7 separate regions of the Homo sapiens genome follow, and regions 1, 2, 3, 4, 5 and 7 are each linked to region 6. Evidence: fine-mapped expression QTL. A gene starts in region 6. Each other region holds a variant in brackets. All regions are shown on one strand. Distances are between the middles of the regions. Region 1 holds the start of LOC124901455 (a long non-coding RNA gene). Region 2 overlaps AGPAT4 (1-acylglycerol-3-phosphate O-acyltransferase 4). Region 3 overlaps AGPAT4 (1-acylglycerol-3-phosphate O-acyltransferase 4). Region 4 has its middle 39 kb from the start of AGPAT4. Region 5 overlaps AGPAT4 (1-acylglycerol-3-phosphate O-acyltransferase 4). Region 6 holds the start of AGPAT4 (1-acylglycerol-3-phosphate O-acyltransferase 4). Region 7 overlaps MAP3K4 (mitogen-activated protein kinase kinase kinase 4).

The links. PIP is the estimated chance that this variant, and not a neighbour inherited with it, causes the effect. A credible set is the group of variants that fine-mapping cannot tell apart.
Region 1: its variant is the best candidate, but not a certain one, in a credible set for the expression of AGPAT4 in whole blood (TOPMed, PIP 0.51).
Region 2: its variant is the best candidate, but not a certain one, in a credible set for the expression of AGPAT4 in whole blood (INTERVAL, PIP 0.88).
Region 3: its variant is the best candidate, but not a certain one, in a credible set for the expression of AGPAT4 in whole blood (TOPMed, PIP 0.65).
Region 4: its variant is the best candidate, but not a certain one, in a credible set for the expression of AGPAT4 in caudate (GTEx, PIP 0.63).
Region 5: its variant is the best candidate, but not a certain one, in a credible set for the expression of AGPAT4 in whole blood (INTERVAL, PIP 0.51).
Region 7: its variant is the best candidate, but not a certain one, in a credible set for the expression of AGPAT4 in monocytes after LPS (Quach 2016, PIP 0.76).

What each region holds. Positions count from the first base shown.
Region 1 is chr6:161,137,719-161,141,785 of GRCh38, forward strand. AGPAT4 (1-acylglycerol-3-phosphate O-acyltransferase 4) reads right to left here. Exons shown (of 9, transcript NM_020133.3): 8 at 1,704-1,902. LOC124901455 (a long non-coding RNA gene) reads left to right here and starts at 1,898. Exons shown (of 2, transcript XR_007059860.1): 1 at 1,898-2,748; 2 at 3,360-4,067. The variant G/T (reference allele first, on the strand shown) is at 2,506.
Region 2 is chr6:161,184,614-161,188,680 of GRCh38, forward strand. The region is part of intron 2 of AGPAT4 (1-acylglycerol-3-phosphate O-acyltransferase 4); the gene reads right to left. Among named protein-coding and RNA genes, the nearest start is that of AGPAT4-IT1, 25 kb to the left of the region's middle. RefSeq lists enhancers at 1,090-2,289, 1,346-1,886. The variant A/G (reference allele first, on the strand shown) is at 2,084.
Region 3 is chr6:161,212,890-161,216,956 of GRCh38, forward strand. All of the region lies in intron 2 of AGPAT4 (1-acylglycerol-3-phosphate O-acyltransferase 4), which reads right to left. Among named protein-coding and RNA genes, the nearest start is that of AGPAT4-IT1, 53 kb to the left of the region's middle. The variant G/A (reference allele first, on the strand shown) is at 1,605.
Region 4 is chr6:161,310,588-161,314,654 of GRCh38, forward strand. No RefSeq gene overlaps it. Among named protein-coding and RNA genes, the nearest start is that of AGPAT4, 39 kb to the left of the region's middle. The variant G/A (reference allele first, on the strand shown) is at 2,035.
Region 5 is chr6:161,156,176-161,160,242 of GRCh38, forward strand. All of the region lies in intron 3 of AGPAT4 (1-acylglycerol-3-phosphate O-acyltransferase 4), which reads right to left. It overlaps AGPAT4-IT1 (AGPAT4 intronic transcript 1), which reads right to left. Exons shown (of 1, transcript NR_024277.1): 1 at 3,939-4,067. Among named protein-coding and RNA genes, the nearest start is that of AGPAT4-IT1, 3.8 kb to the right of the region's middle. RefSeq lists enhancers at 2,102-2,603, 2,604-3,103. The variant T/C (reference allele first, on the strand shown) is at 2,277.
Region 6 is chr6:161,271,902-161,275,968 of GRCh38, forward strand. AGPAT4 (1-acylglycerol-3-phosphate O-acyltransferase 4) reads right to left here and starts at 2,160. Exons shown (of 9, transcript NM_020133.3): 1 at 2,037-2,160.
Region 7 is chr6:161,107,617-161,111,683 of GRCh38, forward strand. MAP3K4 (mitogen-activated protein kinase kinase kinase 4) reads left to right here. Exons shown (of 27, transcript NM_005922.4): 21 at 283-353; 22 at 1,127-1,243; 23 at 2,139-2,298. Among named protein-coding and RNA genes, the nearest start is that of AGPAT4-IT1, 52 kb to the right of the region's middle. The variant T/C (reference allele first, on the strand shown) is at 1,656.

The DNA of each region.
Region 1 (4,067 bases), 130 kb before region 6:
GCTCCTCAGATGCTCCTGGAGACGCCGTGTCCACACTGCACCCCTCAGATGCTCCTGAAGACTCCCTGTGTCCACACTGCACCCCTCAGATGCTCCTGAAGACTCCCTGTGTCCACACTGCACCCCTCAGATGCTCCTGAAGACTCCCTGTGTCCATACTGCACCCCTCAGATGCTCCTGGAGACGCCCTGTGTCCACACTGCACCCTGGGCAGTGCTCAGGCTTCTTTTTTTGGTACTCGCTACACAGCTGGGTGGCCCTGTCTGCAGCCTTCATCCTGAAGGGGCCCCTCTCCAAGACGGCGTGGGTGTGTGTGTGCCTTGCTGTTGCCTGCTATTGAAGCAGAAGGGTTGAGCTTGCCCCCGCCCTACCAGGGGCCCTGGCACCTGCAGCTGCCCCGGACCCTTGGCCAGCCTCAGCATGGCGGGGCATGGGGGTGCCCCTGGACCTGCCTTAAGGAGATGAGGTGCTTTCTTCTCCAACCTCTTATTTTTTTCCCTTACACGGTGTGGGTGTTGTTTTAATATTTTAATTTTTAACACTAAAATACATCTTAATCTTTCAAAAGACTGTATAGTAGGGTCTATTTGAGGAACAGGAGCCAGCTTGTCTACTGCACCCATATGCTGCAGCATTGGTTGGCTCAGTCAGAATGAATGAGCTAGGTTTATGTGCTGTGACCTGTTTTGGTGGTTATGATTCATTAGGTGAAAAGGCGAGCTGAAGAAACTCCACTGATACGGGTTTATAGATGCACATATGCTTGAGACTGGAACCACCACGTGCATCAAATTGTCATTAACGATTATCTGGGAAGTGGGCTCAATGGGAATGGTCTCCTGACACACTTTCCATTTTCTGCGCTTGTCTATTGCTTGGGCCTTTTATAGTGAGCATACTGCATCTTTGTGTTTGACAGAAAATAACTGAGTCCTGTCCATTTGGAAGAAGCACGTGATCTCTGTGTGCTTGGACAATGTGCCGTCTCTCCCGGGCTCTCCAAAGCCTCAGAGGACGCCAGGCTTGGGGAGACAGGGCCTTTCACAGGGAAACCCCAAAGTCTTCCTTGGCTCCAGGAAGCACGGACCTGCTGTTCACAGGGCAGGAAGCAGGCACGACAGGCTGCCCCGCCAGAGGCAAGGAGCAGGGTGCACAGGGGCTTGCCACCAAGAAGCAGCAGTAGCCCGAGAATACCGGTCACCTGGAGCCAGCGCAGACCCATGAAAAGCTCTGTCGCCGAGTGTCTCCACTCAGTGTCATCCACCTGCAGCAAAGGAGAAGCCACAGGCGCCCCCAGAGGAAGGCAGGGAGCTGCCCATCCGTCCCCGCCAGGCTCCAGCACAGGGCTTTCTTCAGAAGCAGGAAATGATGCCAATGAGCAGAGCTGTCTGCGGAGGACAGGGAGGGAGCACTCCCAGCTGTCGGGGAGTGAAGTGGCAGCTGCATCACCACCCAACAGGGAACGTGTGGAATCCAGCCCCAGGTGGGAGGCTGGACCGTCCAGGCTGCGGAGGGGGTCCCAGGCCTGGTATTCGAGGGCCTCGCACTCATCCTGAAGTCTAATCTTTCCCTGTGATTGCAAGCTGAGCCTGCTCCTCATCCACGGCACAACTGCCTATACAGATGGCCTTCGTCCCAGCCCTGATGCCACCTCTCCCAGGGTGGTGCTGTCAGCACCCACCAGCCCCTTGCCCTCCACTCACCCACAAAGAAGACGAGGATGAAGCTGGCCAGCGTCAGGGAAGACCCGCTCCTGATCATGCTGACCAGGAACTGGAAGAAAGGGTAGAGCACCAGCGAGGCCCAAAACAGCCAGTTCACGAGGGTCCAGGGCCGCCGGGGGGGCACCATGGGCGTCTCTGGGAAGGTGCCCGTCCTGTAGTACTCCTCCTGAAAGGCATCCTGGGGGACAGGAAAGAGGACCCTCAGACGCCACACGGGGCTCGGTGGCAGGTCCCTCCCGAGGCCCTGCTTCCAAGGGAATCGCAGAGATACACAGGTGCCACCGGGGCTCGGCAGAACTGGGGTCTGCAGCTCCTTCCAGAAAGCACTTTGTAGGCAGCTGCTGTCTTCTCAAAGCTGCATCTGGCCGCCCCTCCCACAGGGACACTGGGAGTGGTGGGGCCGCTGCAGCTGTCACTGAGTGCAGGGCGTGGAGCATGAACCCTGGCGCCAGGCCAGCCTGGGCTAGGATCCACCCTCTGTGGGCAGGCACCTGCATCCCTGAGCCCAGGCCCCAGTCTGTCTAATGGGGCAGCAGTGCCTTCCACGATAGGTCGGCGGGAGAATGGAGTGGATGCTGCGCCGAAGCTGCCCGCAGGGGACACTCGGTGGAGACCTGGCCCGCAGTCAGGAGGAGCTCGCCCAGCCCGGCCCGGCACATGCCCCGCCTTCCCGGCCTCCACAGCCAGTTCACCTCGGGCAGCCCACCCGCACCTACCACCCTGTTTGCCACTGGAGGGCTCTGAGGGCCGTGATTCAAGGCATCATGAATGACAAAGGGCT[G/T]GAGGGCTGCTGGGTGTGGCTCTCAGAGGTGACAGCACACTCAGGACTGGGTGTCCAGGGTGACTCTTCTAAGTGATTGTTAGACCGTGTGAAAGGTAAACAAACAGGCTCATGTCCTTCCACTAAGCAGATCCTTAGTGGGAACCATGTACTCATCCACATCCACCCACAGGGTGTGTGTGTCACCGAGCAGCTTGCAGGGCAGTTACTCCAGAGCCTCATGGCGCTCCTTGCAGTCCCTGGGTGAGAACAGGGGACTCACGGCCCCACATAAATGCACTGCGAAAGAACGCGGTGGCTCTTCCCTGGGTGTCTCATGTCACGGAGCTCCCGCTCAGGGACTGGGGCTCAGCCGCAAGGAGCTGCTGAACACAAGGGAGGGACCCAGGAACCCAGGTCAGCAGGCGTGCTCAAGCGGCTGGGAGCTGAGCTGAGCCAGGACCTGGGGGGAACAAGGAGCTGTGGCACCAGGATGCCCGCTGGCCCGTCTAAGGGCAGGTCCTGGCCGTGAGGAGGGGCCAGGGCAGAAGCTGCCTGCAGGGAGCAGAGCTGAACCAGGCAGCCACAGGGAATTGCCCAGGTTGTATGGTGGGCAGCTGCCTCAGCTATTGTAAAAGCTGCACGTGGCCGATAGCATGCACGCCACACAAAAATGGGTGTGGGTCACAGTGAGGCCCAGTTTGTGTCCCATGAACTAGCCTAGTAATGTCCCAGTTCTCTAAGGAGTCGAGTTTTCTGGAAAATGAGCTTCCTTATAATTGAAACTTATACTACTTAAATGCTGAATATTTTCCTTTAACAACTTGAGATAGAAAAGTCTAAAGTATCTCATACTTTTCTTCTTTTTCATTCAGGGTGTACTGAATCATAGGCTTTCTTGGCCTCTCAGAGGCACTTTTAATAATAGTCCACACACTAGGCCATTTTGGAAGGAGAACCCCCAACCCCTTCCCTGGGCAGTTCAGGTGCCTCTGCTCTGTCCTCGGCCCCCTGCAGCCCATTAACAAGCCTGGTCCGAAGCGTCACTTGTCGCGTGACTCTGCTGTTGGACATCAGCCAAGAGAAGCCATGGGGGCTCTCAGGGGAAGTCACATCATCAAGCAACTGAAGAACAATCAACGTGTGTGCCAAGCACTCCTACCCTCAAGCAGTGAGAGCGATCAGATGGTGGAGGAGACAAGGAGGTGAGCACCATGACGGTCAGCAGCACAGGCAATGCCCAGAGAGGTGGCACCCAACTCTGCCAGGGAAGCAGCGGCATTCGCCTGCCCACCAGAACGGGGTGATTTTCTTATCCCAGGTTGGGGCCACAGGGCACCTGATAACTAGACAAGGGGGGTGATATTTTTGTGCCTTGTTTTTTTTTAAAAAAAAAACAGCTTTCTTAAGATGTCACTTACATGCCATAGAACTCACCCATTTTAAAAAATGGGCAAATGTGGCTTTTGAATTTATTTTCCTTAACAGTCTTTATAGTGCTTTTTTACAGTAATATCACAAAGGGGAACTCACCATGGTGCCTTTTCTGTCTTGTTTCCAGAAAGACATTTGCTAGGCCAAGA
Region 2 (4,067 bases), 87 kb before region 6:
CCTCCCAGGCTCTGTGGTCCACCTCTGTTCCTCTCCTACACCTAGTGGCACGTCTCCTCACAGCCCATGCCCAGTCAGTCATCAGGGACAGTTTACCTGCCAGGTTTCCACCCATCTGGGCACTTGGCAAGACTAGAAATCTGACTACATCAAGCCTAGGAGCAATGAGAGCTTGGTAGCCATAAATACCATCAGCCCTTAGATTTTGTTCTCTAAACACCGTACCTGTGGTGTGTGTAGTATTCCTGGGAAAACTGTCAAACTCAAAGTATCAAGCACCCATACATAACTTCTAGTTTACAGGCAGGTCAAGAGGGAGGAGTAGGTTAAACGCCCTCACGATGAGCACCCACACACCCAGAGCACAGGAGGTTCTACGAGGCAGTGCTGGGCTTTTCACAAATTAAGGAAAAAAGAGGTTGGGTGGAGCGGGGGGTCTGTTCTAAATTAAGAGAAACTTCAGAGACATAAAAACGAAATGCAATGTATGGGCCCTATTTAAATCCCTATGTAAATACTCCAAATGTTTAAAAAAAAAAAAAAAAACAAGAGGGAGATAGTTTGGAAACAATTAGAGAAATCTGAATATAGGTGGTATTACATTATATTAAGAATGCCATTAATTTATATTCTTTTGATAATGACATTCTGATTATGTTTTTAAGATGTCTTTTTTTTTTTTTTTTTTTTTTCCAAAGACAGGGTCTCACTCCGTCACCCAGGCTGGAGTGCAGTAGTGCAATCTCAGCTCACTGCAGCCTTGACCCCCTGCGTTCAGGTGATTCTCCTGCCTGAGCCTCCCAAGTAGCTGGGGCTACAGGCCTGAGCCACCACACCTGGCCAAGATGTCTTGAATCTTTATAAAACACATCTCATGACAATGTGGGGTGATATTTCATGACATACAATGTCTGGAATTCAATTTTTACATTTTCATCAATCAACTCGATACCTGCCAGTAGGATGAAATATTTAAAGTGAAATCTAGATTCTTTGACTTTGGAGAATCCTTATGCTATTCTCTCTACTCTTACATAGATTTTAATTAAAAAGTTCAAGAAACAAGTTGCCTCTTCCACAGAAAATAAGTCCAGGAAGCAATGATCATCACGGCAGAGGCATCACCCGAAACCTCTCAGTCCTGGCTTGGGCACCGCTGCCTCTTCTCTAGCAGCAGCCGGAAGAGAGACAAAGACAAAAATGGCATAAAACTGTTCATCCCTAAAATATAGATCACGGTCATGCCTGGATTTTCTTTTTTTTAATTTCTGAAAGAGATGAAGATTACAATGCAATTTGAAAATACTTTGCATTTCAATGCCACTATATTTGAAGCGATTAAAAGGTCTAAAGTTCCCGAAGAGTAAAAGTAGTCCCTTTTCTGCCCCTCCTTTGCTTACTGCATGGAGTAGTGAGAAATTCTCGAAATCTTCCATTTTCTCCTCACCCCATTAACAAGGAAAGTCTCATTGCCTACTCTGGGCTGCAGAGCAGTCAAGCCACTGAGGTTGGACCTTCCAGCCCCCCACTTCTTGGGAGGCTGACTGACTATGGGCAGCTCCAACCCCCATGCCTCAGTCTCCTGATGGCTAACCTGGAACACTCATGCTTAAGATGAGTGAATCAGAGCCTGACTAACATGATGATGAATCACATTTCTTAGCCTACAAATCTGGGAATCAGACTCTGGAACGAGGCACAGGCAGTCCACGAGAAACCCTGCCACCTCCCTGCTGTCTCCCAGGGCTCCTCTATTTGCAGCCACATGGTATGTTTCCAAGAATTTCAACTTAGAGCAACTCGTGTTCCTGTGCACACCACCGACGGCCCCTGCAGTCCACCGGCTCGCTGCCGTCACTGGTTCTGTCCGCCCACATCTTCCATGTCCACCACCGCCTGTCCTCCCTTCCATCTCCAGCACTGCCCTCCTTACCTCTTGATGACCTTCTACCCAGTCTCTCTGCCTCCAAAGTCACCCGCTCCGCATGCCAGTCTCATGCCTTGCCGCCACTTCCTCCTGTTAGACGCCTCTGCTGGCTCCGCACGATCAACCAGATGACTGCAGGCTCCCCAGCAAGCCCCA[A/G]CTCCAGGCCACCCTCTCCTTCCCCCACTTCTCCCCACCGCACTTCCTGAGCTAAAGCCCAGAGCAACTGCAACGCTGTTCCTGGAACTACCTAGAATTCTCTGTACCTACCCCAAGCTCTGGGTTCTTGCTCAAGCTGTTCTCTTGGCCCAAAAGACCATTCCTTTCTAAAGGATGTCCAGCCTTTTCTGTTTTCCAAGTTTCAGTTCAAATAAGACCACCCACTTGCCCCTCACCTCCCTTAGGAGTAGTCTCTCTCTTCAACTCGCCTGAATCCCCCACGAGGGACACAGCCTCAGACTCTGAAGTCAGACCTGAATTTGAATTCCCATTCCACGATTTACTAATAACATCGGCATATTACTTAACCTTGCTGACTTTGTTTTATCTGTAAAAATGGAATAATATGATAATCACTCACAGAACTGCTGTGAACATCTAAGAAGAGAAGACTAAGGTTTGCAAAAGAACTGTGAGTGGCAATGATGTTGGTGGTCACCTTTTTCCCGGAACCTCTTGCTCCGCCTTCCATACTTTCTTTCTCACCTTCTATTCACAGGCACGTTTTGTCTTGTTCAGTATTCTTCTACCATAGAGTGTGCTTTCCTCAACAGCAGGGTCTTGTCTTGTTCATTTCGTTGTTGTTGCTGCCCACAGCATGCAAGGCAGGGTTTGCCCAACCATGGGTCTCAAGAAATATTGGAATCCAACAGTATGGGTGACAGCAGCAGTTGTGTAGCTAAGGAAAAATTCACCAGGATCCAAATCACAGCAAAAATCAGTTAAGGATGGTATGGTCCTGAAGCCCATTTATTTATTTATTTATTTATTTATTTATTTATTTATTTATTTATTTAGAGACAGGGAGGGTCTCACTGTCTCGCTCAGGCTGGATGGAGTGCAGTGGCACAATCTCAGCTCACCGCAACCTCTACCTCTCGCGTTCAAATTCTCCTGCCTCAGCCTCCCAAGTAGCTGGGATTACAGGTGTCCACCACCACACCCAGCTAATTTTTTTTGTATGTTTAGTAGAGACAGGGTTTCACCATGTTGGCCAGCCTGGTCTCAAACTCCTGATCTCAAGTGATCTGCCCAACTCAGCCTCCCAAAGTGCTGGGCTTACAGGCGTGAGCCACCGTGCCCGGCCCAACTTTTTTTATTTTAAAAGCACCATTATAAAATTACTAACTTGTTTAGGAATATTTAAAGCAAATTGTAAAATCTACATAAGATAAATACCTGCTCTAAATTTTCATCTAATTAATGTCTTCTCTCACCTTTCCCTTATTGAAATGTAATTCAGCTGATTTTCATTATCCAAATTCATTACCCACAGAGCAGAGAAATACGTATACATTAAAATGCAGTTTTAATATGTACAAATATATAATAAAATGCTATATATGTACTTTCTAATTTTGAAATGGATAAATTAAGATGCTAAAATATACACAATTACCAAAATAATTTTTACAGGCAGAAATGTGGAAGGGACTCTATCCCGGCACTGTTTTTTAAAAAACATTGTCTTTACATGGGACATTGATTGCTTCCATATCTCAGCCTAGGACGCCTTAGGATATTTAATTTTGTCTCTCTTCTAGTAGAAAACCAACTTTTTCAGTAGAGCAGCTTTTAATTATTAAGGATTATGTATAAATTGCACATTTTTCTATCAGACTTGTGATAAATTAGGTCACCAGATAATTCTGAGATCCTCTCCTTACATCACTTGTTTCAAGTGAAACTTCCCAGTGTTTCCAACAACGTAATATTCTGTCCCTATTAAGATGACCAGGTAAAATACAAGGTACCCCATTACATTTGAATTTCAGATAAATTACACTTTATTTTTTAGCATAAGTATGTCCCACGCAATACTAAACGACATTATGAGGCATGCAATATCTGGGACACATACTAAAAAATCATGTGTATATGAAATTTAAATTTAGCTGGGTGTGCTGAATTTTTATTTGTTAAA
Region 3 (4,067 bases), 59 kb before region 6:
TTCACTGTAACAGGCCACAATCAGAGAAACTGTTTATTTTACCAAGACTTTGACTGTAATGGTGTGCTTTCCTTTAAGGAATCAAACTTGACTTATGAAGCCAATAAAAACCCCTTGGAAAAAACTGGCCTCATACCTTTGTCTACACAGCCCCTGCACAGGGTTCCTGACCTGTGGTAGGTAAACAATGTCACTTTCTGGCAGGTCCAGGAGCCTCAAGTTTATCTTGGAACCTCAAGAGGAGCTGATCACCCAACTCATAGGTATTTGATGGCACAAATCCATGGCTGGGCTCGGCTTTAAAAAAGTCTTATCTGAGATTCCTCCTATGGAACACAGTTCCATCAAAGCCAATTTAAAAGCCTTTGTAAAAATAATTATTCTTGCTGCACTGTATACAAATAATTAGGCCAAGTATAATAAAGCAAACCAGTCCTACCATGATTTGTCTTTAGTAAAAATGGGAAACTGAAGAGAGAATAATTATGCTTCAAAACTATAGTACACCTGTTGTTAGATTCTAGTTTTATCTTACATTTTTCAATTTTTATTATTTTCTACAGTTTGGACTGAATTCTAAGTTTTCTGGGCTACAAGTCTTCAAAATAATGTTTTCAATTTTTTGTTCCTTCCTTTTTTTCCCAATTTTTCCTAATTTGGAGTCACTGAAAACTAAGCTGTGCTTTTGTAAAGCCCTGTGAACTGAAGCCAGACAACTTAAACTTCAAAAGAAAATGACAACAATCTATTTACATACATAAGCCACTTTCATACCTGCCTACTGATGTATGGGCTTCAGAGTAATGTGGCCTATATTGATTTTTCCAGGATTGTTCTTTTGCTTGTTGTTGTTTGTCTTCCTTCCTCTATTTTCTCTTCATAGAATAACCTTATAAAAATGAGTTTTCCTAATAACTTAGATCCTACCTGTCTAGGAATAAGCCATCCTAGTCATGAGAGATCAGACAAAACCTGGGAACAGAGACTCATCTTCTTCTAAAATGCTTTCTCCAAAAAAATTTTTTAAAGTGGGGGTGGGGGTGTTGGGGAATGTGAAAGGAAAATATCTTAGGCCCCCAAAATCACTTAAAGGGAAAATTCAAGCTGGGAACTGTTTAGGGCAAACGTGCCACCCATTCTATTCAAAGGCATCCCTCTGCTCACTGAGATAAATGCATATCTTACTGCCTCCTTTGGAGAGGCTCATCAGAAACTCAAAAGAATGCTACCATTTGTCTCTCACCTACCTGTGACCTGGAAGCCCCTCTCCTTCGAGTTGTCCTGCCTTTCCAGACCAAACCAATGTTCATGTTACATCTGTTGATTGATGTCTCGTGTCTCTCTAAAATGTATAAAACCAAGCTGTGCTTTGACCACCTGGGCACATGTTGTCAGGACCTCCTGAGGCTGTGTCACAGGCACACATCCTCAACCTTGACAAAATAAACTTTCTAAATTTACTGAGGCCTGTCTCAAATTTTGGGGGTTTCAGAAGCCTGTTGCTCCTAGGCTGCTCACCTGTACAGCATGTGACTGTACTGAATACTGTAGGTCACTGTAACACAATGGTAACTATTTGTGTATCTAAACATAGGGCTGGGCAT[G/A]GTGGCTCATGCCTGTAATCCCAGCCCTTTGGGAGGTCAAGGCAGGCGGATCAATTGAAGTCAGGAGTTCGAGACCAGCCTAGCCAACATGGTGAAACCCCGTCTCTACTAAAAGATACAAAAAAATTAGCTGGGCATGGTGGCACACACCTGTAGTCCCAGCTACTCGGGAGGCTGAGGCAGGAGAATCACTTGAACCCAGGAGGCAAAGGTTGCAGTGAGCCGAGATCGTGCCACTGCACTCTAGCCTGGGTGACAGAGGAAGACTCCGTCTCAAAATAAATAAATAAATAAATAATAAAATAAACATAGAAAAGGCACAGCAAAAATACTGTATTACAATCTTAGCAGACACCGTTGTAAATGTGGTCTACTGCCTGAAAAGTCATTATGGGGCACGTGACTATATTTCAAAACTATCTACGTTGACCTCCAAACCTGTTCTGCTGGCCTGCCTTAGATAAGACTGAGACAAAGGCAACAGGCCCATCTGCAGTTTCAAAAAATCAGACCATATCCAGCTTCATACTAACAATTTTTTCTTTGGTAGGACTACAAGCTATGTTTTTTATGTGACATTTTAAATACTTATTTAAATACCCCATAGAGACTGTCTAGATGCTTCACATTTCTATAGGCTTGAGTACAATTTTAATACTATTACAAGAGTCTTCACAATTTGGCAAGCTACATTAATGACCCTATTTAACTTATGATCCTACTCTTCCATAACTCATACACTGCATGTGTTGTAATCTGTTGCCTAGTTAGCAAATGTTTCTGTAGAATTAAGCTTCCCCGTATCTGTGGGTTGAAAATGTTTACACATCCCAGCGGACATATTTGTGCTGAATCTCAAGGTTTTTGAGGCCATGGCTCATTCCTTCTCTGCCATTTCCCATACTCTTGGATTTACAAAACATACGCATATACCCAGCAAACACAGACTGACAGTGACTCACCCTGATCTCATGCTCGGTAATCAGGTTCAGATATCCTGGTCCTTCAGCATGAGTGTGGTTCTCAGGTCTGTCTCTCTGGCACACATTACAGGCAAAACCCATATTTTAAATGTATAACAAGCTCTTTTTGAACCTAAAACATTCTAGTCTTTATATTCTGAAGCCTAGCACATGCTTGAAACACTGATATCCTTGCAGTGGCTGAGGGGTATATCTGCTTGAACCACACAGTAGAATAACCTCCCTTACCATAAAAAAAAAAAAAAAGAAAACACAAAAACACAAGATCCAAGTTTCCTGTTGATAGCTCAAACTCTAAAAGTCCTACCAGCCACCAACCCATTGTAATTTCTCCTTTTTAGGTAGATATACCCATTATTTTATTCGTAATACAGCATTACCTTTCAAACTATACATCAAATTGAGTAGAGCAGACATAGTCAAGTTTATCTATGCCGGCAAGCAAAACTCTTCGCATGCACCCTGCCATGAAGGGCTATCAAACCTCCTCTGCCCCTAGAGCTGGAAAGCTGTCCAGGCTCACACATACTTGCCTCTCTTAACCGCACCATGTCCAGTTGACGAGGATTAAAGAAAACAAACAAAAAATACCTTTCAGCTAAAGCCAGATTTGTGAGGCTGCCAAGAGCACTTTTCCCTCCTGCCTTGACAAGGCTTCTTCATAGTCTGACAAAGGAGACTAACACTCTTAGACACAAATACAAGTTGGAGATGTCTCTGAAAGGGTTCTGAACCCACGTTGGGGTTGGGTGGGAATAACTCAATGGATGACTGAAGCAAAGGGTCAATGCTTTCAGGGCTCTCAGAGTAAAGCCATGAAACAGAATAGGCAACAGCAGCCCCAGTCTCTTCTGTCCTCAAGCAAACGTCTGCAACAAGTGCGTCTCTTGTCCAGGATGACAGACAACCTCTGCAACTGCCTTCTACAATCTTCAGGCTCACTCTCCTCAGGACAGTGAAACGCTTCCGGGCAATCGTTCTTTCCTCATTCTTTCCCAACTTCCTCCCTGGGCTCCACTGTGGAAACCAAAATGCTGGGGCAGCATCAGCCCCGACGCCCCAGGCCCCACCCCAGCACTCTCTTAATTCAGATGATTTTCCCCAGTGTCCGTTTTCACACTGCTGCTGAAGACATGCCCGAAACGAAACCAAAAAAGGTTTAAAAGGTTTAATTGGACTTACAGTTCCACATGGCTGAGGAGTTCTCACAATCATGGTGGGAGGCGAAAGGCTCTTCTTAAGCAGCGACAGCAAGAGAAAATGAGAAAGAAGCAAAAGCGGAGACCCCTGATAAACCCATCAGATCTCGTGAGACTTACTATCACGAGACTAGCACGAGAAAAACTGGCCCTCATGATTCAACTACCTCCTCTTAGGTCCCTCCCACAATACGTGGGAATTCTGGGAGATACAATTCAAGTTGAGATTTCGGTGGGGACACAGCCAAACCTATCACCCAGTAATCCCTGCTTCTGTCTTA
Region 4 (4,067 bases), 39 kb after region 6:
CAAACTCCTCCTCTTTCTGCTAATACCATGTCTAAGGCTATCCTATTTTCCCAAGCCATCTGGCCTGTAGCCCCTAATGGCTCAGCTATTCCTTCAACAGCATCTCTAGTGTAGTTACTAAATCACTGTTGGTTGTAGTAGATGTAGTTTATCCAATCTACATTTTTATTAATTGTCACCCACCAAGATATTGACTCAAATCCTGCAGCTATTTGATTTCGGAATTCAAATTGATCTGGTATTCCCCGTGGGACTCCAGTTGCGTTTAAATAGACATGAGAGTCGAAAGACCCATAAGGGGCTTCTCTCGCATTATGATGTCTTATTTTTCCTTCCTCTAGTTGATGAAATGCCAGGGTGAAACGGATAGCCAATTGGACTAAAGCACAAGTGCCGCTCCAGTTATTCGGCAGAGTGTCCAGTAAAGGTCCACCAGAATACCACCACACATCCACTAGGGGATGAACAAGGGCTGACTGATTGATAAGTTCTTGAAAATTCTTAAGCTCACTGCATCCCCTCAGGTCTCCAAGGAATGCTGTTTCCTCCCTGTCGTGAGAGATATGAAGTTAACTTAGTGTTGGGAGACAGAAGCTGGATGGCCCTCAGGGGCTGGCCCATAGGATGCCGGACTTCGGGATATAGCAGAGAGAGAGCATGGCACAACTTGTTACTCCAGGCTGTAGGATCCGGGAAAAGAGCTATCATGCAGCCCACTCCTGGTCAACTGGAGGACCACCCTACTAGAAAGGGGACAATCTGGGCCTCTGGCCTGCCATGCACACAAGCATAACAATTGCTTTCGTTTAAAGTGCGGACGGAATATCTGATCCATTCCAACCAGGCATTTGCAACTTGGTAACCTGTTTCAATTGCCAATACTTGTTTTAAGTCTTTAACTTCTACGACAGCCATCTTGGTCTTGTGGTTAGATGGAGGAGGAGCAATTATTCCGTTGTGAGAGGTTTTGGAAGAAGGCTTAGAAGAAGGTGCAGGCAGTGCGGGATCAAAGAAATACATTTTAAAGAATCCAATAGGGTCTGTCCCTCAAACCTCAACCCCCATACCATAAAACTGGCTTAAAGGAGGGAACCGGCTTAGAAAAGGGGAAGAAGTTTGAGGATTCGAGATAATAACCTGTATAGGATTGCACTGGTTTAGCTGACACTTAGTGGGGGGCTGTCCCTCTAGTAACATGAATGTACAGTTTTAGGAAATTACAAAAACAGGTTGGGGCGGTCCATCCTTGCTCTTTAGTGGTCCACAGAATGCTGGACCAACTATGGCATAAAAGCTGTACATTGGGAGGGCAAGACTCCTGGTTGACGCCGGGGTCTTTATCAAAATCTCCTCGGATTAAATGGTCCCAGTTCACTAATGCCTAATCTGAGAAGAGTCAGGAGGGACAGAGGTGCTTTTCTGAAGTAGAGAGCTGTCTCTGACTTGGCAAGTTCCCACAGGGTATAACAAGGCAAGCACCAAATGCAATAGTTTGAGGCGAAATTGACTTGGTTATGTTAATAACTAGATGGTCAGCAATAGAGTGAGGAAAGAAGAAAAAGTAATAGAATAGATGAAAGAGTTAAATTTTTCTTAGCTTTAGTTTGGTAGCGTTTTCCCCTGGGACTATGGCCCACGACTCTGGAGAAGGCGGTGCTTTTTTGACTCGGGTGTGATGAGTCCATCCCCTTTCCACTGTATGAACAGCAGTCTCGGTGATTAGTAACACAAGGTAAAGTCCTTCCCAGGCTGGCTCAAGTTTTCCTTCTCCCCACCCTTTGATGAGAATGTGATCCTCAGGCTGGTGCTGGTTTACCGGAAATTCTAGGGCTGGTACCTGTGCTAAAAGACTTTTAGTTTTGAGGGAAAGGAAAGTAGAAGATAAACCAAGTATATAATTTCTAAGAAATTGATCTTTTGTTTTACATGTGGGGACATCAGCAATGGACTTTATAGTCCTTGGCACCTTCTTGCTGAGAAATTTTCTTTAGCACCTATTTTTATTATTTTTTAGACCAAAGAAAGCCAAACACC[G/A]TTTTATATTTGCCAATGCTTCCTGTATGATATTTATACCAGATAAGCTAAATTTCACCTTTACATTAGTGTGTTTTTAATGTTAAAGTTAATTTTAATAAAATCTTGTAGCCATATTTATCCAATTTTTAATGTCTGACCATATGGTAAGATTTGTATAGATGCTTTTTAACCTTTTATAATTTTTGTTAAAAAGCAGGTTAGTGCTTTAAGAAAAACATGTTGTGCTTTTATTTTAATGTCCAGTTCTCAGAAAAACTGGGTGATATCCCTTTAACTTTACCCAATATGTTTACACACAGAATTTCCTTTTCAATTAACATTTCAAAACTTGCCTAAACCTTTAAAACAATTTTTTTTTAACCATTTAATGTAGGTAAAAATCCACACTCTTATGTCTCCTTATAATCCTTTTACCAAAGTACGTTTTACTTTCCTTACACACCTTACACATAAACTGTTTCTTCAATAGTTTTACATTCAGGAGGCCTAATTACTTTTAAATTATACAACATTTCTTGCATAAATTCCCTTTTATAACTTTTTTTTCCCATAACTTTCACAGACAATTCTTCAACATGCCTCAACTTTCTGATTTGTTGCAAACATCCCTTTCTCTAAACAACCAGTTCATTTATTTTAGGACAAGAATTTACCATATAATATTCCTTTTTACATAAATTCTCTCCCCCCTCCTTTGTTTTTTCTCAAAGATGATAACCATTCTTTTCCAAATTGAACTTCCTTCATTTCTGTGGACTAGACTGTCTAAGGCCACAAGATTAGACGTTAGGATAATACATGTTACACTCTTAACTTTTAGCAAACTTTACTTTTGTTGAAAACCTTGTAAGTTTGGGATTTCAATTATTCTTTGCTATTAATAAGACCTCGTTCAGTCCATATTAACTTAGAATTAGTATAGATGACTCCTTCCTGATTCTGTAAGCACTTTAAGGCTTGGCTGAGTGCAAACAGCTCGCAGGCACGTTTGAGCAGACCAATTGTTAGGCAATTTTCCTAACTTGGCTTCTCCAAGAGTTTCCTTATCACTTACTGAATACCCATTGTGTCTTTTTCCTTCAATCACCCAGGAGGAAGCATCTACAGTCCTGTCCTGAAGGTAGTTCCTCCTAGGTCTGGTTGGACCTTTGTATGGTAATTAAGATTTAGATGCCCTGTTAGGAAACCTGGTGGGTTAAGGGAATTTTCAGTGGTTCATGTTAAATCATCTTTTTCTAACAGAATAGCCTCATACTTTAAGGTTCTTGAGTCAGTAAGCTATCTTTTGTTTTCTTTTTGACTTAGGATAGTTCTGACCTGATGAGGTGTGCTCACAATGAAGTTTACTCTAAAAGTTATTTTTCTACTTTCTTCTGTTAGCGAAGCAGTTTCCACTACAGATTGAATGCATTTGGGCCATCCACGGGTTACTGGGTTAAGGATTTTTGATTAGGAAGGCTACGGGTTGTCAGTCACCTCAGGGCTTTTGGGTTACAACCTTGTTTACACTGGCAACAAGGTGGTATTGGAGTGTTATAGGGTCAGGGAGAAGACCTTCAATTATTAATTATAGGTTTTAAATTTACCCTGGCTTTTAAAGGAATAGGGTACACTGTTTTCTCTTTACTACTCTCCCTCTCTCTGTTTGTCTCTGTCTCTTTCTCTCTCTCTGCCTCTCTCTCTCTTTGACTCTGTCTCTTTCTCTGCCTCTGCCAGCCGCTTATGCTGCTCTTCTCCCCTCTCCTTCCCCTTCCCCTAGGGGAGGGACCGGTGGGAGTGCAGCTACTCTTTCTTTCCCTGAGAAGAAAGGAAAGGGGAGTTCTGAATATTTTTCTTACTACAGGAGGTTTGTGTGAGGTTCAACCCCCTGAAATTTGCGGAAGGCTCAACCCCTCAAACCAGGGGGTGTCTTGCCTTGCTGCTCTAGAAGGTTGACCTGTTTCCTCCCTTTCCCCCTCTGAAGGTCCCTTGCACACTTCCCACTCGTGTTGTCCTCTCTGGCTGCTCCCCCAAGGGAGAGTTAGGCCCCT
Region 5 (4,067 bases), 120 kb before region 6:
GGTAGACATGTCACGTGGGTTATGGTGTGTACCAGATCTTGTATAACACTAGAGAGGAGTCAGCAAGCTACTGCCCTCGGGACAAGCCTGCTCCTCTGCCTGCTTTTGTAAGTGACGTCCTGTGGCCACACAGCCTCTTGTCCATGTGCCTATTGTCTGCAGCTGCCTTCACGCTACACACAGGAGTGTTTTTTGACAGACACGCTGTGGTCCACAAAACCTAAAATATTCATTCTCTGGCCCATTCCAGATGACATTTAGAGCCACTAAATTTAGAGCCACTAATTAGAGCCTAATTTAGAGCCACTAAAACTTGTTTTCTATGACTGTGTAATGGCTAGGCAATGGTTTACTGTATAATACTAAATTTTTAAAAGATCTGGAACAAAGGTGAGTCTATAGCATTATTATGACTTTATGAAAAAAGTAAAGCAGAGAAAAACAACAGTAGTTGTTGCTGGGCTGTTGGGAACAGGCCCCCAAAATCTGGCCATAAACTGGCCCCAAAACTGGCCATAAACAAAATCTCTGCAGCACTGTGACATGTTCATGATGGCCATAACACCCACACTGGAAGGTTGTGGGTTTACCAGAATGAGGGCAAGGAACACCTAGCCTGCCCAGGGCGGAAAACCGCTTAAAGGTGTTCTTAAACCACAAACAATAGCATGAGCAATCTGTGCCTTAAGGACATGCTCCTGCTGCAGTTAACTAGCCCAACCTATTCCTTTAATTCACCCCATCCCTTCGTTTCCCATAAGGGATACTTTCAGTTAATTTAATATCTATAGAAACAATGCTAATGACTGGCTTGCTGTTAATAAATACGTGGGTAAATCTCTGTTCAAGACTCTCAGCTCTGAAGGCTGTGAGACCCCTGATTTCCCACTTCACATCTCTATATTTCTGTGTGTCTTTAATTCCTCTAGCACCGCTGGGTTAGGGTCTGCCTGACCAAGCTGGTCTCAGCACTGGGCAGTCATTTACAAGTGATTTTTATTTTGTTAGATTTTCCAGTTTTTTATTGTAAACATATTTCACAGTATCCCTGTAACAATGTCACTTTTAAGAAGGGGCTGACATCAGCATGCTTTCGCCATCTGCTTTGGGAATATAAGTGAGGCTCTGGGTCAGAAACAGTTTTGTTTTGTTTTGAGACAGAGTTTTGCTCTTGTCGCACAGGCTGGAGTGCAATGGCACAATCTTGGCTCACTGCAACCTCCGCCTCCCAGGTTCAAGTGATTCTCCTGTCTCAGCCTCCTGAGTAGCTGGGATTACAGGTGCCCATCACCATGCCTGGCTAATTTTAGTATTTTTTGTAGACACAGGGTCTTACCATGTTGGCCAGGCTAGTCTCTAACTGCTGACCTCAGGTGATCTGCCTGCCTCGGCCTCCCAAAGTGCTGGGGTAACAGGTGTTTTTGATGATCAAAGGGAAAAGAAGAGACATAACTTTCTTTATACTGGCTTAATCCATCTTTCAGCCTTAAAATTTTGGATGTTATCAATATGTCTAGGTTTTGATGTTAACTATGTTTGGTAAGAAACATGTTAAAATATTAAGGTAGAAGCTTTTACTTCTTCAAACTGAAGAAATGTCACTCAATTCTCTTTCCCTGGCAGGGCTGCATGAAAAGCTCTGGAATGAGACAGTCCTGTTTCTAACCAGGCTCTACCACGACCCAGCTGTGTAACTGTGCTCAAGACACCCAATCCTTCTGAGCTTCTGTTTCCCCTCTGTGTGATGAGGAAGACAACACATATTCCCTGGTGTCCCTGTAAAGACTGAATAATGTATGGAAACATCTACAAAAGCACAAAGTTGAGACTCTGACATGGGCGTTCAATAACTTGTAGCTATTATTTTCATCCCAGAGCAAGCAGTATCTGAACACCTCCTTATTCAACCCATTTTCTCTGCCATGCTTTAGCGTAATAGTAACAACAATAGATTACATTTATTTAAGCACAACTGAAGAGTCACTGTGCACAGACAGTTGCCCAAGTTAACTCACTTATGACAAAGAGACTAGAAACTGCTATTAAGACATACTGACAGTTCCCCCGGCAAAAGGTTCAATAGGCTATAACTATCATGGCTTTCCCAGGCCACTCAGAGGCTTCCATGTGTGATGCCAACAGCTTTCAGAGAGAATGTACAAGAAAATATACTAATTTCATCAATTCTGGATTTATTTCACAGGTCAACGTGAAAGGATTTACTGATGAGTTAGATGTATCAACAGATCTGTCTAGATACAAGCATATTTAGACAA[T/C]CTAAAATTTTCACGTGGAGTAAACCACTATGGAGAGAGAGAGTGAAAGAGAGAGTTGTCTTAGGGCAGGTGCTTGGAGCTAATCTAGTTGAGCGACCCATCCTGAGGCTCCCCACAGCTCAGGGAAGCAGCCAGCCCCATGACCTGGTCTGCATCTCTGGCAAGTGGGCCAGCCCTTGCAGAGACCCTGGACGTTGGGAAGAGCTGACGCAGAGAGGGCCTGAGACCCAGTACTCTGACCCTGACCTTCAGAAGCTCTACAGCCTCTGGGGTGAAAAGGGATCGGAATGAGGCCATTCTAGTTAAGGTTTTCTCCAAAATGGCTACTCATCAAGGCTTCAGATGAAGATTCCAAACCCCGGTGCTGCGAGCAGCATGGCTGGGAGCAGCAGGGTATCCTGCTCCTGCACCGCCTCCACCCCCACTAACACCAGCAAGGAACCCCTCAGGGGCTGAGGCTCTATGGCCAGCTTTGTTTGCAAACGTCCAGTCATTCATGAAGGTTTCCCAGTAGGGTTACCAGTTAGTCAAGTGAGCCAAGGTCATTTATTTCTACTAAATATATAAAATGAGGTATCTTAAGTGGAACTTCAAAAACAGGTGAGATGTTCCTTAACAATAAAGCAGGCTAAACAGCCTGCCTTTGAGTCCTTTGACTGTTTTCTTGACTACCAGCTGGAGCCACTGTAGCAAATGTTTCAGTTCCCTGGAGCCAAGACAAGCCATCCAGCCCTATCACTCCAGGGTCCCCACAAGTCTCCCCATAGCACAGCCTCCATTCTGATGTATGGTGCATAAGCGCATCAGATTGGAATCTTCAACCCAAGGCTGCTCTGTCTGTGCAAAGGTATTGATTAAGAAGCCCCCTATGCCAGGCATTATGCAGGTGCCGAGAACTCAATGCTGGTTATGATTACCTGTGGCCTTGAGGTGCCCAGAGTCTAGTGGGAAGGGAGAAGCAGAAAGCTTTCAGTTTCTGTGTTCCACTTCTGCCACTAAACTCTGCCAGTAAGTTGTTGTACAGACCCCTTCTGGCAAGAAAGGTGTGTGCAAGAGAGGATGGTATGGGCCTGGAATCTCTGAAATCTGTCCCTAGTTATAGCAAAATGCAGAAAAGACTGGAGCTCAAAATAATGAATCAGTTTGTGTGCACGCGTGCGTGTGTGTGTGTGTTCATCAAAAGGTGAGAGACTCCATTCTCTTTTTTTTGAGACGAAGTTTCACTCTTGTTGCCCAGGCTGGAGTGCAGTGGCACAATCTCAGCTCACTGCAATCTCTGCCTCCCGGGTTCAAGCGATTCTCCTGCCTCAGCCTCCGGAGTAGCTGGGATTACAGGCACCTGCCACCGTGCCTGGCTAATTTTTTGTATTGTTAGTAGAGACGGGGTTTCACCATGTTGGCTAGTCTGGTCTCGAACTCCTGACCTTCAGGTCTCCCAAAGTGCTGGGATGGGATTACAGGTGTGAGCCACCAAACCTGGCTTTTCTTTTTTTTTTCTTTTTTTGAGATGGAGTCTTGCTCTGTTGCCCAGGCTGGAGTGCAGTGGTGCAATCTCAGCTCACTGCAACCTCCGCCTCCAGGGTTCAAGCGATTCTCCCACCTCAGCCTGTGGAGTAGCTGGGATTACAGACACCTGCCACCACACCCAGCTAATTTTTTTTTTTTTTTTTTTTTTTTTTTTTGTATTTTTAGTACAGACGAGGTTTCAACATGTTGGCCAGGTTGGTCTCAAATTCCTGACCTCAGGTGATCCACCCGCCTCGGCCTCCCAAAGTGCTGGGATTAGACTCC
Region 6 (4,067 bases):
AGTAATTTCAGCCTGGCTGCTTTTCAGAATTCTTTGCAAACATCAGATGCTCACAATCCAACCGTTTCTCTGTGTACTAACATGTGCTTTTCAAAATGAGTGTCATATTCTTTTTAGTAATACTTTTCTGTGTGTTATGCCCTTTAAATAGTTCTCGTCTTTAACTCCATGTGGCTCTGGTTTGTTTTGTGCCATGCTATTTTGCCCCATTTTCAGGTAACTTTTCTACCTGAATTACTTAGGACCTCTGGATTTATAGCAGATTTGATAAGACATAGATGATAGCATATTTAGATAAGGATCACAGCAAACAGAACCTCACTGAAACCACCCATTCTTCCTGCTTCCACATGGCAGGGTTGCTCAAGGTTTATAAGTAATGATTTTGGCTTTAGCAGCCGGAAGGTATGAGGGCTAAGTGACCTTCACACATGTTTATCTTAAATTATAGATAATTTTAAGAGTCATGAATGGGATTACTACTTATCTATTTTATAAAAGCTAATTATTTGGGATGCCCATCAGAAGAATGGTATCCCTTATCAAACGCTTCCTTAGACGTACTGAATAAAAGCATCAGTTTAGCCGGTACCTGTTAAGAGGCTATGTCTTTCTAAGAGATGTGTTATTTGATTCTAATTATAATTAACTTTGCTTATTACTAAGTAGATAATAATTTTCTCATTTCATATTTTTTCTGAATAACAGTTTTTCTCCCCATAGAGAATATTCAGAAGATGGAATCCTTTTAACGTAGAACTCAAGATGTGCCCTGTTCTCCCTGCCCGCCTCCCATTTCCCTAAACACACACACACACACACACACACACAAACACACACATTCTCCCTTCTCTCAAGATACTTTTTTTCCAACTGAGAGTCGTTGACTAATCACAGATGAGTTAATCCTTCCACAGTTTTGAAAAAGTCTAGCAACCCTCACCTTGAAGAGAGTGAATAGCGTGGCTAATCCATCTAAGAACAATGCACGAAAACGAAAAACGGAGAATCCTGCCCGGCAGTTAATTTGTTACTCATACTTGTTGAACTTAAGATTTGGAGCTAAATAAGTGCAGATGAGAGCAAAGACCCATCTTTTAAATATTTAAGCTTTTAGGCAAACCTGGGCAGGCAATATCACATTTATCAGTGCGAATTCTCCAATGCTCTCTAAAACTTTATTTCAATGATCTCACCTCCTGTAAGGAATTAATTCCCCCTTAGCTTGACCACAGGATCAATATCTTATCTTAAGAAGTGTTTAGGTTTTCTAAAAAAAGACCAGACACTGAAGACTTACATAAACATCAAAGCATTCTTTTTTTAATTCCTCGATATGGAGAAATTCATAGGCCGAAAATTAGGTAAATAGAGAGGTAATTACCAATGCCTGTTTCCTTGACAACTCCCCTCCCCCACCCCTCCTGTGATAGGGAAAAACCAAAATGAAAGTGAGGAGGGGTAGCCACAAGCCATGCTGGATTTTAGCAAACCAAAGCAAGAAGCAGAGCAGAAAGCTGCAAACTAGACACAAAATACAAATAAATCAATGTATATCGGGGCTGCATATTGTGTAGTATTTTTGTGGTTGCCATAGAAACGTCAGCGACGGAAGAACATGTTGCATGACACAAAAGAGAGCAATATGTAATAGGAACATTCCCCCCACCACCACCCCCCGCCCAGCTTCGTCTATAGCAGAGAAAATGCTTTAGCCCCGGGAGGGGGCTGGGTGGGTGGGTAAATGAAGCCAGGAACAGCAGCTTGAAATCACAGCCCAGAAAGGGACGCTCACCCGGCCCAGCACAAAGCGAGGGTCCTTTTGTACCAGCAGAGCCTCTCTTCGCCTCCCTCCAGGCGCCCCCTGCACCTTTCCCCCGCCCGCCTTGCACTCCCCCCCCGCCCCCGGAGCCTACCCCTTCCAGAGGTCCTAAGGAAATCCAGCCCAGGAGAGAAAAATATGCTGGGAAGAGGAATGCAAACATCAGCCACACCCAGCGGGGAAGGTGCCTGCGAACGGCACCAGGACCACATACCTCCTTCCTGGCAGCCTTTGGCACATGGACTTAGAAACCAGAAGCTGAGATGGAGCCGGCTGGGTTCAGAAATTGCCACTAGTTTATAAGAGCTGTAAGTCAGCCAACACTGGAAAGAAAAAGCGAGACTCCACCCATGGGGTGGACCCTTCAGGAAGAAAAAAAAAAAAAAAGTGGTCCTCAGCTGACGTCTCTCCCCACCCATGTCACTTCCTTTTAAAGCTACAAGTTAGCAGTTGCCGAGAGGGAAGAGCGAGCTGGTGTAATATGAGTCACTCCCTTCCCCTTCCAATTAGTGTAAGGCAGTGCTTCAGTTGGCTTCACGTTTGAAATCGCTTTTGAAATCTGGCTCGGGAAGCTGCCAGGATAAAAAAAAAATGAAAGCCCCCTGGAAGTGGCCTTGCTTTCTCTCCCCTTTCTCCCAAATCCTGTTGCATCCCTGCGCCCTAACGGCTCCTCTAACCTCAACCCAGACTCCGGCTCCGTCTGTGTTGCAACCTGGAAATTGTCCTCAGTTGGCTCATTTTTAATTCAGCAAGCGTAGGATCAATATGCCCACCCTCAAAACTCTCCCCTCACCTCTCCTCGGTCCGCTGTGCTGGAAGGAGATTGCGTTGCACTCAGAAGAGTCCAAATCATCTTAAACAAAATAAGCCTCAGCACTCAAGAGATTGAGATGTTATGAAGTGGGATGAAAGAAGCTTGGAGGTCGATTGATGTATTTTCTGTTTTCAAACCTTAGCACCATGGTTGATTACCACTGCACAGGCGTGCACACACGTACTGTCGCATGCTCACATGCACGTGGCATTTACACAGGTGTATCAGAGAGGGTCTGGGCAGACCTTTATAGTAAAAGTGTCTTCACAATTTTTAAAAAGGGTGGGCTGTTGAAAGTCCAGAAATGCCAGGATCTAGAAAATTATTTCAATTTCAAAATACTGAGGTGTATTCCTTTCAAATGTCCACTATTACAGCCATTGTCAAAATAATATTTAACTATTTACTTGACTCCTGGGTTAACCTTGTTCTTTAGATGTTTATAATCTATAAAGGAAAAATACATGTGCTCACAAATAGCCCAAGCACATTGCAGAATTACTAACAGCTATGCAAGTGTCAAAACCAGTGTGTCATGAAGACAGAATAGAAAGTGCTTTTTTGATTGCGATGGGGGAAGGCATTGATCATTCAGGAAACAGGGTTTGGAGTGGGTCCTATGGGAGGTGGCATTTTTCTTGTCTGTGATGAGAGACGGGGAGAGTGAAGCAGAATGTGGTGGAAGAGAAAGGATATGTGAGGCAAACAAAAAAAGGATCAGAACAGAAACCCATTTGTAGCAATAACTTGTTTTAATATCCATGTGAAAATAAATTTGACCACAGAGTAATGCTTATAAAAGATTTTTATAAAAAGTTCCTTGTAGTCATCATCTCTCGTAACTTTTCGAACTATGTTTTACGACCCATGTGCTTCTAGATTTGGTGGAAACTTGAGTTTTTCAAAGTGTTTTTCAAGTAGAGTTACACTGTTTTTCACGGTTGAATTCTGAATGGTAATTTATTTCAAAACCTACAAATTGCATAAATTCCTGATAATGTTATAAGTACAGTCAGTGATTTCAGTGGAAATGATAGGAAATTTAAAATTTGGACAATTGTAACTTTTATCCTGATCTCAGTACTTTAACATCCTCATTCCATTATTACATTACAATTATTATTATACTTATTATTGCTAACACTTTGCCTGTCTAGACAATGTTGCTCAGTCCCAGTTATCTCAGATATAGCTGAGAAATATGGGAGAAAAAGTTACTATTTCTAAAAATTTAACATAGAAATTCAAAATTCATGGATTAAATCCTATGCTTTTTTTTTTGAGACAGAGTCTTGCTCTGTTGCCCAGGCTGGAGTGCAATGATACGATCTCAGCTCACTGCAACCTCCACCTCCTGTGTTCAAGCAATTCTCGTGCTGCAGCCTCCCAAATAGCTGGGATTACAGACATACACTACCACACCCAGCTGAT
Region 7 (4,067 bases), 160 kb before region 6:
TTTATTGGTCATTTTCATGCTTCTCCTGGAATTTACCAAAGTCGGTTCTGCTCTATTTAAAGATACTTGTAGGTAAGACATATTAAAGAGATTGCCTAAAACTTTAGTTATCAGGGAACATTTAGAAAAATTTTGGATCTTGCAATAGTAAACTGCAGTAAACATAATTATAGATATATAAATATACGTCCAAAATAATTGGACAGTATTATTACAAGTTTAAGGAATGTAAGACAGCCCCCTGCAGTGGCTGGAAGTGCAGCTTGTTTGCATTGTTCACAGGAGAAGGCCAGTATGGGAAGGTGTACACCTGCATCAGCGTCGACACCGGGGAGCTGATGGCCATGAAAGAGGTGAGTCACCTGGCTCCGTGGGGCCTTTGGGCCTGGCGGCTCTGGGTGATAGAAATTCCGTATAGACGCTGGTCGTGATTCAGTTCTCTGTGCGTAGAGCTGTCTTCAGCACCAGCACTGCGACAGTCAGGACCAACCAGGCAGATGCACTGAGATAACACACACAGACAGTGAAGGGGCTTACGATTCCAGAGAGGATAATAAGTCACAGACAGTTCTAACAGCACAGGTGTGAGAAGGGCCTATGAGGGTGGCAGAGCTGAGTCTGATGAAGGCTTAGAGGAGAGGATTAACAGTAGTGTCTTATGGGGACACATTGGGGGAGAAGATAACATTTATGATAAGCTTCAGAAACAAGTGGCATTGAAACCGCTGGAGGTAGGATGGGGAAAGGGCCAGGGAACCTGAAGTAGAAACAGGACTCACTGCTGTCTGTGGAGACATCCGGTTTGACGTGGAAGGAGGAGAGGAGTGGAGAGGGGAGGCTCCAGCGTCTTGCACTTGCCGTGGAGCCGCGTCCTCCTCCACATGGCGCTCCTCACTCCCTCTCGGAGCAGGGCCTCTTCCTCCTCTGTGCCCGGGACCTACCCGCACTTCTATGACTTCACTCTAGCTTGGCTAAAAACTTCCTTTTTACTTAATTTTTTGTTGTTTTTAATTGACAAATCATGATTACATATATTTATGGGGTGCAAAATGATGTTTCAGTGTATGTGTATAATGTAGAGTGATTAAATCAAGCCAGTTAACATTTTTGTCACCTCACTTTACAGATTCGATTTCAACCTAATGACCATAAGACTATCAAGGAAACTGCAGACGAATTGAAAATATTCGAAGGCATCAAACACCCCAATCTGGTTCGGTATTTTGGTGTGGAGCTCCATAGAGTAAGCCGACCCTAATGCCACTCTTTGTGTGAGGAATCAGTGAGGGCACAGAATGGAGTCCTGTTCTACATCACAGGTCTTCTCATTTCAGAGCACAGTAACTTTGCCTAATTCTCAGGAAATCTCCATGAGTTACATCATTTCTGCCTTCTCTCTGAAACTAGAGGAGTTCCTCCTAAAATGTAAGTTGTAGACTGTAGTCATTAACCCGACATCATAAAGCACTGAAACCCATCCTGCCATTCAGAAGATTCTTCTAAAACGCCCCTTACACCACTTCTTGTGACTTTTTTTCCGTTTTTTTGCTGAACCACTGTTGAGTACACTGTTAAGTAATACTGGTTTTTTTCTTGTATGTATTTAGGGAGCCATTGTGAAATGAGAGAAAATTCAAACCTCAAATTGAGTTTCC[T/C]CCTTGTGTTTAGAAATAAACACGTCGAGGGAAAGAGGATAACTTGGAGCATCGTGGTGTAGAGCATGAGCTTCCAGGGGAAGTTGGAAATGGATCATTTTTAATGTTTTTACAAATTATGTTTAAAAAGGATGTGTTTCAGTACTTAATAATGTATTTGTAGGGACAGCCCTGTTGGTCCCTGTCTGAGATTATATAGCAGACTTAATTTCAGAGGATAATAGAAATTGATCCCCTGTGATTTGGAGATGTTCTTATCCCCAAGAGCTGTATAATTCCAGACAGAGGAGGCAGGCAGACACCTCTATAGAGGACTTAGAAACGACTGTTGTGAGACACATTCAGTGCTCAGGATGGCAAGTGTAGTATACCGTTAGAAAGAACATTCCTTTGGGGTGTGGCCTAGGAAGTTTTCCAGATTTTTCACTAGCGTACATCTAAGGAAAACCGTAAACACAGAGCTGCCCTTTATTCCTCCCACAGGAAGAAATGTACATCTTCATGGAGTACTGCGATGAGGGGACTTTAGAAGAGGTGTCAAGGCTGGGACTTCAGGAACATGTGATTAGGCTGTATTCAAAGCAGATCACCATTGCGATCAACGTCCTCCATGAGCATGGCATAGTCCACCGTGACATTAAAGGTAATCCCACACCCGCCTGGCTGCTGTGGGCCAGAGCCACTGGTACCCAGCCCGTGGGAGGTGCTCTGAAGACGCTCATCCCATTCCCACATATGATTTCTCTAGATGGAAATACCTTTCATTGAAATACGCCTCTATAAGGATCCTGTATTCAGAAACAAGGTAGAACTCATGTCTCTCTACCCAGGAGTCCGCTCTTTCTGTTCAACACTGCTTTTAGAGAAATCTGTTTTCCCAAAATGAAGTTTGCTATTTTTATAAGCTGATTTGGCATAGCCCGTGTACTTACCAGACATTCGTGATCAAAGCAACCTTTTTTTTCTCTCGTGTCAGGATTCTTGTCTATTTATATATGAAAATCATGAATATGTAAACCGACAGTAAATCAGATCAGAAGTGCACATATAAATTTGAGGCTACGTTTTTGAGACAAGAATGGGGTTTGTTTACACAAACCTTGAAATTGAGTTCTGCTGAAGGTTATTTTGGCCATGCTGATGGATTAAAAGTGCTCTTCTCATAGCACGAGGGGAATAGCTGGGCTTCTGTCTCAGAACGGTCACCGTGGCATTTGCCTTAACCACGCCATGCCCCTGACCTTTGTATTTGCAAGTCTTGAGGATAATTAAAATGGGGAAGTATTTTTGTGCCTATTTGGCCCTAGGCTGAAGAGTTTCATTCTGTCCTGTAGTCTGAGGCTAACCTAAACACATTAACTTAGGAACCGACCTGACTTCTGACCAGGGACAAGACCCAGTGTGGGAGGTTATTTTGGATTACACCAGTCTGCTTTGGTCTGGGTGTAAGCATTGTTCGTGCTCTGTAATGTGGCTCACCCTGAATCACCCAGCATACACCGGTCTCATTGGCTGCCTGCCTGTCCGCTACCTTGCTTTGGTGTCTGGGGTCATCCTGATGTTGGCTTAACTGGCTCTGTACCAGGCCGTAGCACTGCCTATTTCTAGTCGTTCTGCCACAGACACCATCCTCAGTCTCTGTCCACTGTCACAAAATGGTGTTTGCACGTTTGTTCCGTGGCAGGAAGAGACTCCCTTAGAATCTGAAGCAGGTCAGCTCACTGGTGTCTTATCCAATGCTTTCTAGTTCAGCATGGCTAAGAAGGTACAGATGTACAGTCGCTCGAGAAGATCAAGCTGCCCCTCGTAGTCAATTGTGGGGAGCATCAACTCTAGGAGCACTGAGTTATGAGGATTCGCTGTTGACCTCAGCTCATCAGATGGCTGCTTGTCTAACTCCATTGGCTCTGTGTTGTTGCTTTTCGAAGGAGGTACCATAGAACACAATGCCAGAGATGTGTGACTTAGTTGGAGCAATAATATCTTGCAGCCTAGAGCAAAAGGCCAAGCTGTCCTGAGAGATGAACAGTATTCCCAAATTCTAACTAGACTACAAGTTAAGCATATATGTTGCTTGTAGGAATATTTGAAAATTGCAGAACAGTTTTCAGTCACGTCATATAAATGCAAGGGCCTCAGCTGGGACTCTGAAGAACTGCAGTGCGTGTGCAGCTCTCATCTACATGTCGCTTCCTGTTTCAGACGCTGCTGATTGTACACATCTCTCATTCTCCAGACTGCCACCACAACAAGCACTTGTGTTTTGTATGCAGTTTCTTTTTAAGTATCTCTGTGGGTTATTAATGTTAGAATGTATGCATGTATTTCAGTTCAGAATTTATTGGTCAAGGCTACCTGCACTGGTGTTAAAATTTTGTTGCTTTTTATTAAAATTTGTGAATAAGGCTTACA